2 separate regions of the Homo sapiens genome follow, and region 2 is linked to region 1. Evidence: fine-mapped expression QTL. A gene starts in region 1. The other region holds a variant in brackets. All regions are shown on one strand. Distances are from middle to middle.

The links. PIP is the estimated chance that this variant, and not a neighbour inherited with it, causes the effect. A credible set is the group of variants that fine-mapping cannot tell apart.
Region 2: its variant is the best candidate, but not a certain one, in a credible set for the expression of CCND2-AS1 in prefrontal cortex (GTEx, PIP 0.65).

Annotation. Positions count from the first base shown.
Region 1 is chr12:4,272,557-4,280,884 of GRCh38, reverse strand. CCND2-AS1 (CCND2 antisense RNA 1) reads left to right here and starts at 4,701. Exons shown (of 2, transcript NR_125790.1): 1 at 4,701-4,826. CCND2 (cyclin D2) reads right to left here and starts at 7,123. Exons shown (of 5, transcript NM_001759.4): 1 at 6,650-7,123; 2 at 4,665-4,880; 3 at 1,966-2,125. The coding sequence starts at 6,844. RefSeq lists an enhancer at 1-680 and silencers at 1,862-2,054, 7,193-7,282, 7,813-7,932.
Region 2 is chr12:4,249,773-4,258,100 of GRCh38, reverse strand. The region is part of intron 1 of CCND2-AS1 (CCND2 antisense RNA 1); the gene reads left to right. Among named protein-coding and RNA genes, the nearest start is that of CCND2, 20 kb to the left of the region's middle. The variant G/A (reference allele first, on the strand shown) is at 3,917.

The DNA.
Region 1 (8,328 bases):
CGGTAACTCCACCCAGCACCCCTACCCCAATCAGAGATCAGAGAGGAGGAAGGGGCAGTTAGACCCCAAAAGATCTGTTAGTCAAGAGACAGTGTTGAGCAGAGCTCTGGCTATCAACAGCTGGGCAGTGGGGGAGTTTAGGGTCGGGGGTCAGCTGTCCTTGGGCCAGAGAGAAAGAACTGGCTGACCCCTCCCCCACAGTGAATCATGATGAGAGAGGAAGGAGACAGCCGAGCCTGGGAGACAAAATGACAGGTCACTGGAGGACTGACCTCTCGGGCCCGGGCCAGACAGCAGAAGGGAAGGAAGCCAGAGTGACCACTATCCAAAAGGCAGCAGGGGTCCACAGGGGTCCTAAGAACCGCCCCCAGGGCTGCAGGAAGGATAACGGACTCTCCCACCAAGGGGCACAGGGCGCATGTGCACGCCATGAGGCCTGGCCTGCATCCAGGAGAACAGGACTACAGAAAACCAGCAAGGGGAAACCTGTGCCCTAGATGAACAGGCAGGGGGCCGGGAGGACTCCACACTCAAGCCTGCAAGTGCAGAACACACAGGTCCTGCTAGAAACACGTAAGGGCAGCCAGAAAAGGAAAGCCATCATATCCACTTTAGTCGGAACAGTTAAAATCAGGGTGAAAATCGGAGATGGTAGCATTTTCACAATTAGTGAAGGTCCAACCTACACTTCGGTTTACAAAGCACGTCCACGTGCATCACCTCTTTCTGATTTTAATTTTCCTAGCTGCTCTGAAAAGGCTGTAGGATGATGTATCAATAGGCTTGTTTTGGAGATGAAGAAGCTCGGGTTCAGAGAGGTTAAGCAGCCAATTAAAGGTCACTCACTGATATGCAGCAAAGCCTGACTTTTTGACTGTGAGCACAGGGCATATGCACTACATCGTACGTTATATAATCATCCGTTCCGTAGAACTCACCAGTAACATGTAACAACATCCTGAAAAAAGTTACCACGTGAGTCCACCTAGCGATTTAACTACTCTTGGCAAATTTGAGGTGAAGCACACCGAAAGGTCTTCCCAAGTGATCAGCTTTTTACCTAAGGTTTCTGATTGTCAAAACATGAACTCCTGACATCTCTCCCTTGGATGAGTAAGGTTCCAGGGTCTCTGCCATGGCCACTACCAAGAAAAAAAAAAACAAAAAACCAGTAGACACTGGCCAAGGCTGTTTAATAAGACAACAGCAAACCACTGCCTTTGGTTTATTAGGAAACTACAAAACAAATGGGCCAGTAGGAATGATGTATCAATTGTGGGATCCACGTGGTAGGCGGAATTGCAACGTTAAAGGCTGCGGCCAAAATCAAAACACCTCCACATGAACTGAGGGCATCAGAACCCAGCGCTCAGAAAGTAAAGCCTCACCGAAAGCCAACCAGGTTCCCTCCCGCGCCCAGTGGGGCAAACAGCTAGAGAAGCAAACAGCTAGAAGGCCATAAATGCCCTACAGTAAAAAAAAAAAAAAAAGAATTTCTTTGGTCTCCCTTACCACTAATCAAGGCAGGCAGCATATTTATCTTGACGTTGTTCCTTTAACCTGTATTTGCCCCCATCCCCCTCGAGATTTCCTCTTGGGCTTATCTCCAAGCCATCCTTTTCCTTAAAAGATTAAAGATTTGAACACAACCAGTGAGCAGTATATGTAATCTTCAAAGAGCACTTTAGCCATCATAAAGAATATTTTAACAGGCACTAATTTTTTTTGCCTTAACCACACCTGTCCTCATAAACCATTTATGAGTTTAGCAGAGAAAGCGAATATATAAAGCTCAGATAAAGAAAAAGCAACCCAGGAATGAAACTTCAGACTTTAGACTACTCAAGACCACCCCTCCTCCAAACTCCTGAACTAAAATGAAAGTTCCTACGGCCTTTTGCCTCTCCCCGGACATCTCCCAAAAGAGCTCCCCCATCTCCCTCCCCGGCTCAAGCCTCATCTTACCGGTGGCACACAGAGCAATGAAGGTCTGAGCATGCTTGCGGATCAGAGACAGCTTCTCCCGCTGCTGGGGCAGCTTGCGCAAGATGTGCTCAATGAAGTCATGAGGAGTGACAGCTGCCAGGTTCCACTTCAACTTCCCCAGCACCACCAGTTCCCACTCCTGGAGGGGAAGGCAGGAAGAGAAGAGGAGAATCTAAATTCCACAGGCTGACCTGGTGTAGGGGGCTGGGGGTTGGGCTCCAGACCAGTTTTAAGGCCGCTCATTAGGACGTGGCTGCTAGATTGTAAGGCGGGCCCATTTGTCAATGTGCCCCTGAAGCTTTGAAGTTGTTGACAGCTCTTCTTATGCTTCAAATGTCAGGCTCCACTGAAAATAATGAGAGCCCAGGTAGCTGTTGCCAAGATTCTATTTTCTTCTACTTCGTTTCCACTCCAGCTCCCCTTACCCCCTCCCAACCCTGACTTGCAGGCAATACTGCTTCCCGCCCACCCAGAAAGCTGAACCTACAATGAGATACGGCCAAGGTCATTGTGGCCCTTTCATGGTAATTTATTGTATATGTCTCTATCACCGAATTAATAGTCTTTTTAATCTTCATGGAAAAATGATGCACACAGATAAAGCTCAAAATAAGGTTCCTTGGCCCAACTCCTTGGCAACCAATTAGCTTGCTTTTACTTAGTGCCAAAAAGTGCCTTTATCTCTCTGCTGCTCAAACTCCCCTTTTACATATCAGGCAGAAATTCTGGGGATGTGACACTCAGCCCTTTCCCCTAAATGTTTCACAGGCCATTGTCATCATGACTAAAGGACCACATGGTCATTAGCAACCTCATTTTGCAGATGGAGGTGATCTGGGGCAAGGTGAGGGTGCCTGCTCAGTGTCACAGCATCCCTCAGTGCAAGTGTGGGGACCACACAACCCTGTCTCTTGGGTCTCTCACCAGCAACCCACCTGAAAAAGAACCTTGTTTCCCTCTTTCACTGAGATACTTACGGGAAACTGTGCTCAAAGGGAAACGGTCCAAAATAAAACATTAAAAATATCGTATGTGCTACCAGAAAATATGCCTATCCACTGAGCTGTCATCAGAAGAATGAGAGGCAGGGCCTGTTTGCCAATGCACCCTCTCTCCCATTCACCTGGAGAACCTGGAATCTCTTTCATTTGCTAAACCAGCAACCAGAGCACCAGTCCCACAGCTGTGGGGCTGGGGGTGATTCCCTTTCCCTCCCAGGCCTCAGCCTTCTCATTTGTAAAATAGGACTCTTCCAAATCCCAACTTCTGGGATAAAGGGAATAGGAAAAAGCCAAGTTTGTTTGTAGCAATATATTGCTTGGCTAGTCCTGGAAAGATTTGGGTGTCCTGAAGAACATCTCAATTCACCATCCTCTCGAAACAAATGAACCATATGAAGATGATTTTTCCTGCTCTCTCATGAGAAAAACAAATTGGTTCCCAATTCTAACAATGTTTTCTTCATAAGCTTTAAAATCTGCCTTGGCTTTCTGTGTACAGCCGGGGTAAAGCACCCCAATAAACTACTAAACCACCATCATCTTCAAAGATGGCTTGAAATGCCAGCCCTTCCTCTTCACAGGGTAATGCGAGTACGAACCACTGGTCTTGCACCGTTATTAAAGGAAGCAGATCTCCCAGAAGAAAGCACCTTTCTAGGCCTCTCGGACCAAACCAGAAGCAGCTAAAACCTGGCAGCGGTTCAAAGGTGAAGTCATTCAGGCCCCTCTCCACATTCTCGGCAATTCCTCCCCCAACCTTGTGCATGTCTTCCACTAGATGGCAGCAGAGCCCCAGAAAGGAAGGCTCCTCACAAAGAGCTCAGTTCAAGAAGCCAGCCTCAGCCCTGTGGACTTTGTGCGGGCCCTACCAGTGAGGAGGGGGAGGGGCGGGAAGGAGGGGGTGCTTTTCTGAACAGTGCAAAGAGGGGTGTGCAAACCACCGAAGGTGGGCCTTGGAGCCGCTATTCCATGCGGTACAGCTGCAATATGGTCGTCTTATATGTCAAGCTGCAGGGAAAAGGAGTTAGATCAGGTGGGAAAAAGGTTCCCTGGTAGAAAAGCAGAGATAAGACAGGATCCCTGGGGTTGTACAGAGGTCACAGTCCCACTGGAGGTAGGAACCCAGGCCTCGGACTCCTTCAGTGAAAGGCCACATTTTGACTTTGCTCAAAAGTCAATGAACTGATATTTAGTGAACAGCTATTATGTGTTGGTATCTTGAGACTTTGTAGATATAGAGGGCATTACCTTTGAACTCCAAGTTTTTAGGAGACACCACAGCCACATACCTATCATGTGAACACGTTCTCAGACTATTTTTGGAAATTTGGAATTTAATTAAAATATTATCACTGTTAATTAAAATATTCCATGCGTCCCCTACACACATGCATACACAATTGCAAATGAGTCTCACCAACCCAAATCTCCATGAGGATCTTATTCACAGATGTAGCCTCAGTGCTGGGCACGGAGCCTGGGCACATAGTAGGAACACACAAAAAATAAACAGTGGTTTCCTATTAAATGAGCTATCGCCCATAAGTGGGTAAATTCTATTGGTGGGGTCATTCTGGATCCCAAGAATTTGCTCTGGCAGTGGTGATAGAAGGCATATTGTTGGCCAGGGGAAAGCGGGAATCGCAGAAAGGAAGGGAGGAAGGGGCCGGTCATTACCAGCAGCTCCTGAGGCTTGATGGAGTTGTCGGTGTAAATGCACAGCTTCTCCGCGGTCAGCGGGCTGGTCTCTTTGAGTTTGGAGGCCAGGAACATGCAGACAGCACCCAGGAGTTGCAGATGGGACTTCGGAGTCGGGACCCCAGCCAAGAAACGGTCCAGGTAATTCATGGCCAGAGGGAAGACCTCTTCTTCGCACTTCTGTTCCTCACAGACCTATAATGGGAGTGGGAAAGGGTTGGGGGGCGGGGGTGGAGAGCATAGCATCAGCAAAAGAGAAAAAGAATAAAAAAGCGTAATCTATCGAAACAAAAAAAATTAATTTTTTTTTGTGGGAGGGGGAGGGGACCAGAATGCGTGATAAGAATAAAGAACAAAGATGAGGAAACTGGAGTGAATCAGAATAGCCCATCAGTGCTTTGGTATTCCCAGGGATCCTATAAAAGGGGGTGAACTACAGCTCCAAAACGGGGAGTCGGAGAAGTGCGCAGCAGCCGCGGCAGCTCCGCGACGCTCCCTTTGGCTACTCCTTCGCGCACTCTAACTCACTCACTCTTTTTTGGATTTCGTCATCTTTTCAAAAAATCAATAAAAATATTCTGGAGGCTCCGGGGGTCCACTTCTTGGTCTCATCCGGATCCCCAGATCCTCCTCTATCATTCCCGACAATTGGAAAAAATGTCTGGGGGGGTCCCTGCGGCCCAGGGGCCGCTTTTGGGGGGGCGGGTGAGGAGAGGTGGGGAAGAGAGGGGGAGGGAGGAGAGGAGGAAGAGCGCCGCAGCCTCGGCAGCTGGAGTCGGAGCAGGGGGGGATGGTTTCAAAAAATAATTAAAAATCGAGGAAATATCCTAGAAAAGCCCTTTTGGCGTGAAAACCCCAAAGAAGAGCCAGGCTTCCCGAAACAGAGGTTTCGGGTGCCAGAAAGGTCTGTATTCCGACCCCTGGGGCTTTGGATCCCGGGAGGAAACTTGAAGGGGTGAGCGCCGCGGCGGGAGTGTCCGGCTGCGGCCCACAAGGACAGAAACTAGGGAACGCGGTGACGAGCGAGGGGAAAGACGGGAGCAGAGAGCCCTGGAAAGAGGCACGGGGGGCTCCCACCTCTCCTTCAGGGGTGACCCGGTATCCCCCCTACACACACCCCCTCCCCCCCTTCCTACCCCACCCAAATCTCCGCACCGAGGAAGCTGGAAAACCAAACTGTAAGTAATCTTCGTGAGGTGGGGGGTGGGGGAGAGGGCACGATTAGAAGTGGGGTGGCCGGGATAATGGGGTGCGAGGGTAAGCGGGCGACGTTTCCCAGCCTTTCCAAAGGGAGTTTGCAAAGCAACATGGCGAAACCACGGCAGGTCCAGAGCTGTGCATACGTGGGCACACGGCTCGCTGGGCAAAGACTTGGAGTGAGGGGCAAGAAGCGGTTCTTTTGGGTTCCCCTGAAACACGCGTTTCTTCAATGGGACTTCCGGGGCTCCCGAATTCCCCGTTTCTCTCCTTCTCCCTCCTCCCTCCACCTCCCCGGTGAAGTGCCAGCGCGGAGTCGCGACCACAGGCGGGGACCTGAGGCCAAGACGAATTTGCTCTGGCCTTTTGGGGGGGGTTGCCTTTCTACTCGGGGTCCCGATTTCAGGCCCCGACTCTCTTCCTGGCCGCAGCGCAAGCAGCCGCGGCGGCTTCGCAAAAGACAGGTCGCGAGGGGGGTGGGAAGAAGAGGCAGCCACATGCAGGAACACGCGCGCGGGATGCTCCCCTACCCCCGCCCAGGACAGCCTCGCTTCTCCCAGATTTTCCTCCCCCCTCTGCCTCCCCAGTTTATCTGGAGAGGAACAGAAATAAAGCCACGCGTCTCGCCAGAAGGCGCGCGGTAAACTCCCGCACAGGAGCCGGGAGGCCGGCGCGGGGATTGCCCTCTCCCAGGTTTAGGGCTCCGGCCGGGGACCCGAGCATCCGGAGGGGTCCTGGCTCCTGGCGAGCGCCACCCCCCGACCTACCTCCAGCATCCAGGTGGCCACCATTCTGCGCATGTAGGGTTGGATGTCCTTCTGCACGCACTTGAAGTAGGAGCACTGCGGAAGGTAGCGCTCCTCGATGGTGAGCAGGTTCTGCAGGACGCGGTCGTCTCGGAGCAGGTTGCGGTCCCGCACGGCCCTGCGGACCGGGTCCACCTCGTGGCACAGCAGCTCCATGGCCAGCCCGGCGGCCCCTCTCCCTCCTGCTTTCCCCGGCCTGGAAAAAGGTTTTTCTGTTTTTGTTTTTTGGAAGGGGAGGGGAGAGCGTTCCCCTGACCTCCTTCCTTTGGCTAAATAGGGGGTTTTCGGGGGAGAGGTGAGGGCAGAGAGAGAAGGTGGAGCAGAAGGGAGGCGAGGATTGGGTGGTGGGCGAGCAGAGCCTCGGGGCTGCCTCACTCGCACCGGTCCTCCCCTTAAAACTGGTCTCGCTCTCCCCTGCTCGCTCTTCTCCGCTCTGAAGCGGTGACGCAAGCTGGCTGGGCAGTTAGCTCTCCTCCCTCTCCCCGCGCTCCCCGCTCTGGTTCCTCCTCCCCTTTCCTCCCCTCCCGGTCCTCCCCTCCTCCTTTCAATCTCTCCCTCCCTCCCTCCTTTTCCCCTCTCGTTATTAAGGAGAACAGCAGCTGGCCCGACCCAACTTCAAACGCGGTCCCCCGCCACCCCCCACCCCTCTCCCTCCATCCAGCCCTGCATGCCAGGGGCCCCGGACAGGGCAACCCACAAAAAACTACCGACTCCTATTTCTGCCCTCTAATTTCACTCATTCTGTAGGTGTAGCACGCCAAAATACGACCCTCCAACTTTGGCTTCTTCAAAACGGATCCTAATCCTCCTGCCCTTGTATTTAAGATCCAGGAATGTAGGGTAGATTATCTGAAGATGGGGTGACCTCAGACAATTTAGAAATAGGTCCCTTAAGTGAAAAATAAGGGAGGGGGTGATTTTAGAAAATAGCAACCTCGCATACCCAGAGATAAAGGTCATGTCCCTGAAGTCTGTGTTCCTGATAACTTCGAAGCTGTTTCGAAAGCCCCGATTAAAGGGACCAGAACAACGTCCCTTCTGCCCCCCCCTGCAGAGTGTGTGCAGAGGAAGAAGAGGGAGGGAGAGGTGGGTATTAGGAAGGAAGGGGGGTGCTTCTCTGGAGGGATAGAATGTGATCCTCGAGCAGAAACCATCGTGTTTCTGGGGGCTCTTCGGGCGCCGTGGGGCGACGCGGTGCAGCGTCTAGGGCCGCCGCAGGCCGGGGGCAGGGCTCCCAGCGGTTCCCCCGCGGCCAGCGGCCACGCAGGAAAAACCCGCTTCCTCGCCCCTGCATCTGCTGACAAGCCGCCCGAGGTGTCTGCGCTGAGCGTGGCCACACCGATGCAGCTTTCTAGGAAATGGCCCGGGAGGGGGAGGGGGCGAGTGAGGGATTAGGTCCGGCTCCCCCTCGCTCCCCCTGCGCAAACACCACCACCCCTTCCTTTCCCCGGAGGCATGAGGCCTCCACGCTCGGTCCTTCGCCCGCATCCTCGCCGACCCCTCCGGTTTCGCGCCTCACTCGCCAGGCTTTCTCCCTGGGAGCCGACTGCGGTGAAGTCGCCGCCAGCACGGTCGGCCCTGACACGTGCTCTAACGCATGCTTGAGTCAAGGCTGTCTTTACAGGAGATACGATCTGGTG
Region 2 (8,328 bases), 23 kb after region 1:
AATAGACTTTAAGACACAAATTGTTACTAGAGATAAAAAGAATGTTTTATAATGATAAAAGGGTCAGTCCATCTGAAGACCTAACAATTATGAACATATATGCACCTAATAGCAGAGCTCCAAAATACACGGAAAAAAATCTGTTCTGTATTGGACAGAAACTTGCCTCTGTGTTGCTTTTACTCCTGGATCTTATTCCTGTTATCTGGAGCCTCACACAACATATACCTGACACATATATGACTAGAAGCTTTTCCAGATATTTGAAGCCAACTCTCATGCCTTTTCTTACTTTCAGTTTTTTATGTGGCCTTGTCCCTATACATTTTTTTCCTAGAATGTATTTATATCTTTTATAAAGAAGGCTACTGCAATGTTAAGAGAGGAACCTACTTTCATAGAATTTCAGAGTTGGAAGGAAACCAAGATGATCTTATTCAAATCTCTACTTTTATAGATGAGTAAACTGGGGCCTGAGCTGGTTAAGTCATTGAGCCAGTTAATGGCAGACCAAGATTCATAATCTTGGTTTTCAAACTACTTGTTCAGTGTTTATTCCAACATTTTCCTTCTTTGATAGTTTTTCCTACTTTAGGTTGCTATTTCTTCTCCCTTCTTTCAGTGGCATCTGGCACCTTTCATCAGAGAAAAAAGCTCAGAGTGATGAAGAAACTGCACTAGACATTAAAAGACATGGATTCTTATCTTTTTTGGTCACTAATCAACTTTCGAGGCCTTGGATAAGTCCCTTATGAAAATAATAACTATTATTCACCAATAATATTTTACACTATTGAGTACCTACTGTTTATGAGGCACTGTGCCAGGCACTTTGCCTATATGCCTCTTCATATAAGTGTTCAAAATGTGTCTCCTTTCTTATCTATACAATAAGCAGGTTGTCTGTTGTCCTATCCAGCTCCGGAATTGGATGATTGTAAAAAGCTATCTTTATTAGTATAGTCTTATAATGCCTGAGGCTTCATCTTTATCTTCCTCTTTCTTGTTTCCTGGGCTGGCAGGAAATTGTAAGGAAGATTAGAATACTTTCTCTAGATTTGTCACTATAGCGAATCCTTTGTATGTGTACCCTTCCAAGGGACTTTCTATTTTCCCATAGGACTTGGCTTGACTTTTACTGGTCCTGTTCAGGGTTTCCAGGATCCTATTCTCAGCCTACTTCTCACTTTAGATTTTCCCGTGGGCCTTTGATTCACTCTCATGGCTTCTTATTTCACTTATGAGCTCAGAGAAGTGAATAATTTGATGAAGTTCACTCAGCTATTAGCAGCAAACTTGACAGTCTGTCTGATCCCACTGTGTTTGTTATTTCTGCTACATGATTCCCATCTCTGAAAGTTCACTTGATCTTACTTTCCCACCCTTGCTTAAGACCTAGCTCAAGCCCTAACCTGTCATCATCACACCAGGCCAAGTGCTCCTCCCTCCCAATTTACCCAGAGAGTGATGTTTGCACTGCACATCAGCCATCACCTTGGGACTTGCCCCTTGGCAGACTTTGTGGTCTAGTGGTTATGAATGTGGGGTCTGGAGACAGAGGGCCAAAGTATGAATCCTGGCTCTACCACTTATTGGCTGTGCAACCACAGAAAAGTTACTTAACCTCTCTGGGCCTCAGTTTCTTCAACTATAATCAGGAACTGCTAGTAGCACTTACTTCATAGGGTTGTTACGAGGATAAATGTGATAATCCATGTAAAGGCAAGTAGCACAATGCCTGACACATGAAAGAAGCACACATTAAATTGACTCCTTCACCAGATCTTGGGGTAATCCCTGATTGGCCCAGGATGATCAACATAATCCCATCCATCTTGCAGAGTGATTGAGTCAGAGTTGGGTACATGCACTTGACTAGTTTAGAGTGGCTTGCAGGATGCAGATGACGTGGCCTCAGGTATGAAGCTTGGAATTGGAATTGCCAAGGTTTTTTTTTTTTTTTTTTTTTTTAACTAGAGGGAAGTCAACTTGAGGACAAAGCTGACACATGTAGTAAGAAAGAACTGAGAAGAGCAAAGGAACTAGAACCAGAGGCTTGATCGGCTATCTCCTGAAGTCCCATTGACCTTTGGAATTTTCGTTGCTTGAGCCAATTAAAAATTTGGGGAGCCAAGCACGGTTGTGCATGCATATAGTTGCCTGTAGTCCCAGCTACTGAAGAGGCTGAGGTGGGAGGATCACTTGAGCTCAGGAGTTTGAGTCCAGCCTGAGCAACATAGTGAGATCTTGTCTCTAAAAAAATAAATAAAAATGCATACTTTTTTTTTTTTTTTTGAGACGGAGTCTCGCTCTGTGGCCAGGCTGGAGTGCGGTGGCGTGATCTCGGCTCACTGCAAGCTCCACCTCCTGGGTTCATGCCATTCTCCTGCCTCAGCCTCCCGAGTAGCTGGGACTACAGGCGCCCGTCACGACGCCCGGCTAATTTTTTGTATTTTTTAGTAGAGACGGGGTTTCACCATGTTAGCAGGATGGTCTTGATTTCCTGACCTTGTGATCCGCCCGCCTCGGCCTCCCAAAGTGCTGGGATCATAGGCGTGAGCCACCGCGGCCGGCCAAAAAAAATGCATACTTTTAAGTCAGGTGGGGTGGCACGCACCTGTAGTCCCAACTACTCAGGAGGCTGAGGCAGAAGGATTGCTTAAGGCCAGGAGTTTGAAGATATAGTGCACTATGATCATACCTATGAGTAGCCACTGCACTCCAGCCTAGGCAACATACGAAGCCCTGTTTCAAAAAATAAATTGGTACTTAAGCTAATTTGTTAGTTTTTTAAATCATCTGTAACTGAAAATATCCTCGATATCCTCATTGATACTGTATATTATTATTACTATCATCTTCCCATGTATATCAAACCTTTGTCATTAGATCATAATGTCCTTTGGAACAAAAATGAACTAAAATGAACTTACTGAGCAGTATGCTGCCATTCCACCTAGTACAGATCTGGCATATAGCAGGTTCTCGTCCATTCACACTTCATATTGGATACTAATTTCACCCTGGTATCTATGGATTTTCAGCATTTTTTTTTTTGAGATGGAGGAGTCTCGCTCTGTCGCCCAGGCTAGGTTGCAATGGTGCAATCTTGGCTCATTGCAACCTCCACCTCCTGCGTTCAAGTGTTCTCCTGCCTCAGCCTCCCAAGTACCTGAGACTACAGGCATGCACCACCACGCCAGCTAATTTTTGTATTTTTAGTAGAGACTGGGGTTTCACCATGTTGGCCAGGCTGGTCTCAAAGTTCTCACTTCGGGTGATCCGCCCACCTCAGCCTCCCAAAGTGCTGGGATTACAGCGGTGAATCACCGTGCCCGGCCCAGACTTTGAGCATCTTTAAGGCAGAAAGAGGAGGTGGCCAGAGTCCCAGGTAGGATGATGGCCTGCTGCTGCTTTGTCTTTTTACTGTCCTATAATGAGCGGAAAGTAAAATAGTTAATAGACTAGTTCATCCTTATTGAGCACCAGGGATTGTACACACCGGATCATCATTCTTCCTATCAGTTACCTGTGGGTATATTATTAATGCCCTGTGTTGCAGATTGGAAATTTATGCTCAACAATGATATTTAACTTATGTAGATCACACAGCCTCTACATAGCATAATTTAGGATCCTGTGCTCAAATTACTGTATCCATAACTTTTTGTCATCCCACTTTAAAGAAAATGAAATTAGAAGTCTTAGACAATGCATTCTGAGTATGGCTTACATACTCAGTAAAATGGTATACAGCTCTAATCAACAGACCCAGACTCAAAAAGCTTTGGACTGCTACCAAGAGATTGGTAAATAAATGTACATTAACTTTAAATAAAATGTGTATGGTATGTATGATTCATTTTTTATGATTTCTCACTTTCCCAACATTTTCAGATAACTCATCGTTTCCTCA[G/A]TCACATCAGAGAGATCCTGATGGTTTTCTTTTTGGAACTTAACAGTTTAAAAACCTAAATAGGATCATGCCAAACATATTGTTCTGTGACTTGATTTTTTTCAGTGAATAATCATCTCTTGGAGTCTTGCTATGCCAGTACATATACATCTACTTCATTCATTTTAAGTGCAGAATGCTTTTCAATAGCAAGGATATGCCAGAATTTTACGACTTCCCATAATTAATGGCATTTGGGGGCCCTCCTTCACCAGTTGTTTGCTTGTATACATAATGTGCCATCAGCATCGTCGCACTTGCTTCTTTATGCATTCAAGTGCCAGTGGAAGGAGAAAGAGCTTGAAGTCCTGATTCTATCAATTAAGTGGTCCAAGAAAGAGAATGAGCATCTTGAGGTCTCCATCTTCAACAGCCTTACAGTCTGGAGGGAAGCAGACACACACACAGCTTTTACTTAGGGAGACGGGGGTCAATTGAAGGTTAAGGGAGTGCAAAAAGAGGGAGACTGAGGGGTTCAGTCGAGGGGATGACTGAGAAGGCTGCCTGGAGGAGGTGTGCTTGAGTCCTGGGTTCAAGGGTTAAAAGGCTCTGATACTTGGTCTGCTAATCTTTCTTATCGTATCGTTGCCTGGCAGTATGCCTGTTATTTGAGTGGACTCTTCTTGGACCATTTGCTTGGATGAACAGTGGGCAGAAGTGGAAAGGAAGGGTGCTCTGGACAAAGGTGACAAAGCCCAGGAACAAAAGTCGGAAGGTGCACAGTGTGCCCAGAGGGCCAGGAATTGGGTGGAGTGACTGGCTCCTTGGTCGCTTGCAAGTAGCATGAGAATAGAGAGGGCTGGGAGATGCATTAAAAAGCACCAGGACAAATTTAGGTTTGCACAGAAAAGGACGTTTCGTCAGGGTACGTGAGGAAAGTTGAGTAGAGAATTTAGGAATGGAGCAGACGACTCTGGTTGGGATGATGAGAGCGGAGAGACAGATCCATGTTCTTTCCAGGTGCCCCAGCAGCTCCAGGTCTCGCTGAACCTGTTACTATGGCAGCGTCTATGCTTCACTTTTGAGGATTGCTTCTGCTTTGAAATAGCCGTGTGGAAGAAAAACTACAAAGTTTTGAGGGGGAAAAAACCCACCTAACTTTAGCTGCCGTTGTGTCTTCATCTGTAAAAATCTTCTTCATGTCTCATGGATTTCAACATGCAGTTTATCTTGGTTTGTTCCATAAAACATCAGATGCAACTTTAATGGCCTAACCCCAAAAAGATAACTTGGCAGCCATCAAGCATTCAGCAGCGTTCCAAATGCCCTCTTGCTGGAGCCAGCCTTCTACGGGGCCATGTGGATGTCAGGCACACACAATTTGAGTCACGCTGACATAGCTGGGATGCCTGGATTGCACTGGAATCTGGGGGGTACCAATCACAGGCCAGAGAGAAGCCATTGGCTGGAAGGAACAATGCCAGCGTGTTCACCGTCTCTGCAGAAGGAGGGGGTGTTGATGGTGAGGGGAATGACAGTTGCAGCCAAAGGAGCAAAATGACCCCAAAGCAGGGTGGGCACATGTCATTGATGCTGGGCAGAAGCACTCCAGGGGCTCAGGTCATGACCACACCCCTTTTCTCCTGCCCCACAACCAGAAAAACTAAGAAGGTACAAGATTTTCCCTAAAACTTAATGTACAGAATGCCCTGCTGTCTTCAGGTTTTTGGGAAATCCAGGGTTGACAACAACAGCCCAAATATATGAAGCACTTACCTCTACCAGGCACTGTCTGTATCTTACAAATAATTCGTTTAATTCTCACAACTCCTTAATGAGGTAAGTTTTACAATTTCCATTTTATGATGAGGGAAACTGAGGCTTAGAAAGATTAAGAAACTTGCCCAAATCCTGCAGCCAGAAATGGGCAGAATCAAGACATGAACCACAGTCTCTCAAAAGCCAAAGCCTGGGCACTCACTACTACCCTCAACAGCCCGGTGGCTGGTTCATGCCATCTCTGCCACCCTCACACAGCCACCTCTTGGATGGTAGAACCCTGTGTGTTGAACAAGTAGAGTAACATTCTAAAAGGATTCTTTTTCCTCCCCTGTTTTCCTGGGGGCTGAGTAGACATGTTTAAACATGCTGTTCATCTGACACTTGTTTACTTCAGTGGCTATGATGTGCAAGACCCCAGACCAGGAACAGTAAGAGGGCATGAGGATAACCCAGCGTGGAGACCACTCTGGAGGAGGCTGCAGACTGGAGGCGCTGTTGTAGCCAGCTGCATTTTGGAGGCTGGGTTGCCTGTCTTAGATCTCTAATGAGTTTGGTCATTATTTTTTCAGCCAGGGTTTTCTTCCTCCCTCCCTGTCTTCCTTCCCTTTCTCCTTCCTTCCTTCATTCCTTCCTTCCTTTCTTCCTTCCTTCTTTCCTCCCTCCCTCCCTCCCTCCCTCCCTTCCTTTCTCTCTTTCCTTCTATCTTTTATTTTCTCTCTTTCTCTGTCTCTCTCTTTCTCTCTTTCTTCCTCCCTCCCTCCCTTTCTCTCCTTCTTTCTTTCTCCCTCCCTCCTCTCCTCCCTCTCTTGGTCTCTCTCTCTCTCCCTTCCTTCCTTTGTTCTTTCAAGATTTTTCTTTCTTTCTTTCTTTCTTTTAAAGGTGTAAGCCTTTTTCTGGTTCACTACATGCCAAGGACTGCGCTAAATCATTCACATAAAACCACCAGCGTGCATCACCTCATTTGGTCCTCCCACAGTCTAACGGGTAGGTACTGTCATTACCCTCATTTTAAGAAAATGAAGAAACTGAAGCTCAGAGAGGTGAATTGATGTCTCCACCGTCTGCCTGATTCAGTACCCTGCACCCTTAACCACTATAAAAGAACAACATGCCAATAGTTCCCTAATGCTGTAAAAGGCACTGTTTTAAACGCATCCTTTATATCAACTCACTCACTCCTCCAAACAGGCGCAATAGAAATTACTATTATCCTTGTTTAATACATTGGGAAACCAAAGCACAGAAAAGTCATGTAATTTTCCCCAGGTCACCCAGCTAGTAAGTGACAGAGCTGGGCTTCTGTTTCACCGAGGAAGACATTCCTCAGTTTTTGTTCTGTTTTGTTTTTCACTTGAAATCCCCCGCGATGGCCCAGAGTGGAATGCCAGGGTCCTGAGAATAAAGTCTCTGAGCTGAACTGGGAAGGGGTGCCAGTGGCAGCTGTGTCCCCTACAGCTCTGGAAGGTGGAGGCGGTGGAGACAGCAACTACACAGCAGCCACAAGCCTGGGTCCCTGCCAGGGGAGACCTCAAAGTCCCCTCGAGGGTTGGCTTCTCTGTGCTGGGCCGTGCACAAAGGCGAGTCATGGCTTCCAGGAGGCCAGCAGAACATGGTCCTCGGGAGAGGAGAAAGCCCGAGGGAAGGGCTGATGGGACCTCAGCCCTCAGCTCTGAGAAGGGCTGCTCTTTAGGAGAGGGGATGTAGGTAACAGCTCCACCAAGAGCCAGGCAAGCAAAAGTAGGTTTCTGTTTGAGCAGCAGCTGGGGAATTTCAGGGAGAGAGAGGAATCCGTTCCCAACAGTGCATAATGTTCAACCCTGGAAGAGGTGACCATCAAGGGGGCCTCTAGAAAGAGTAGACGGGCTGCCCTTAGGCTGGCCTCTTTATTATCTCTGCCCCTGACCTTTGGGAATCCTGTCCATCTTTGAGTCCCTGGCGCCAGTGACTCCACTCTGCGAATCCCTTCCTGACCAGCCATCCCCCACACCCGTAAGACTCCAAGTTCTTTTTGGGGGACAGAAACCCCAAGTGTGCTGAGGTCCAGGCTGCTCCACATTCATCCCTGGGTGGGCTGTGGCTCAAACCAGTCATTTGGGTGACAGAAGTCTCAGACACTCTGGAAGCTGGCCCAGTTGGTCCTGGTGCCCCCAAGAACACTCATACCCTATTCTCCTGCAGCAAATATACCCTCTCTACTATTCGTTTGGCCTTGGCTATTAGGTATCATGTGACCTCGCTGGTGTGGCATCTCCTGGTGTTAGCGGCTTCTTGCATGAGTACATTTCTCAGATGATCAGACAACATTTATTGAACACTTACCATGTGCCACCTACCGCTGTAACTGCTTTATGGGGTTATCCATTTAATTCTCCCAAGAACCCCATGAGTTGATGTTGTTTTTATCACCATATTACAGAGAAGGAAATGGGGGCCTAAGTGCTCAGTGGCTACAGGATGAGCTGGGACTCAAACACAATATTGGAACCCCAGCCATCAAAATCTGTGATTTGTCCCTGGTTTGTGTCTCAACCAAAAGAAGTCAGAGTCTTTTTTACTCCCTTATATCTCCCGTAGCTCCCGGCCAGTGTCTGTATACAGTAGTTGTTCAAAAGATGTGGGCTTTTACTGACTGTTCAAAGACATTTCTAGGT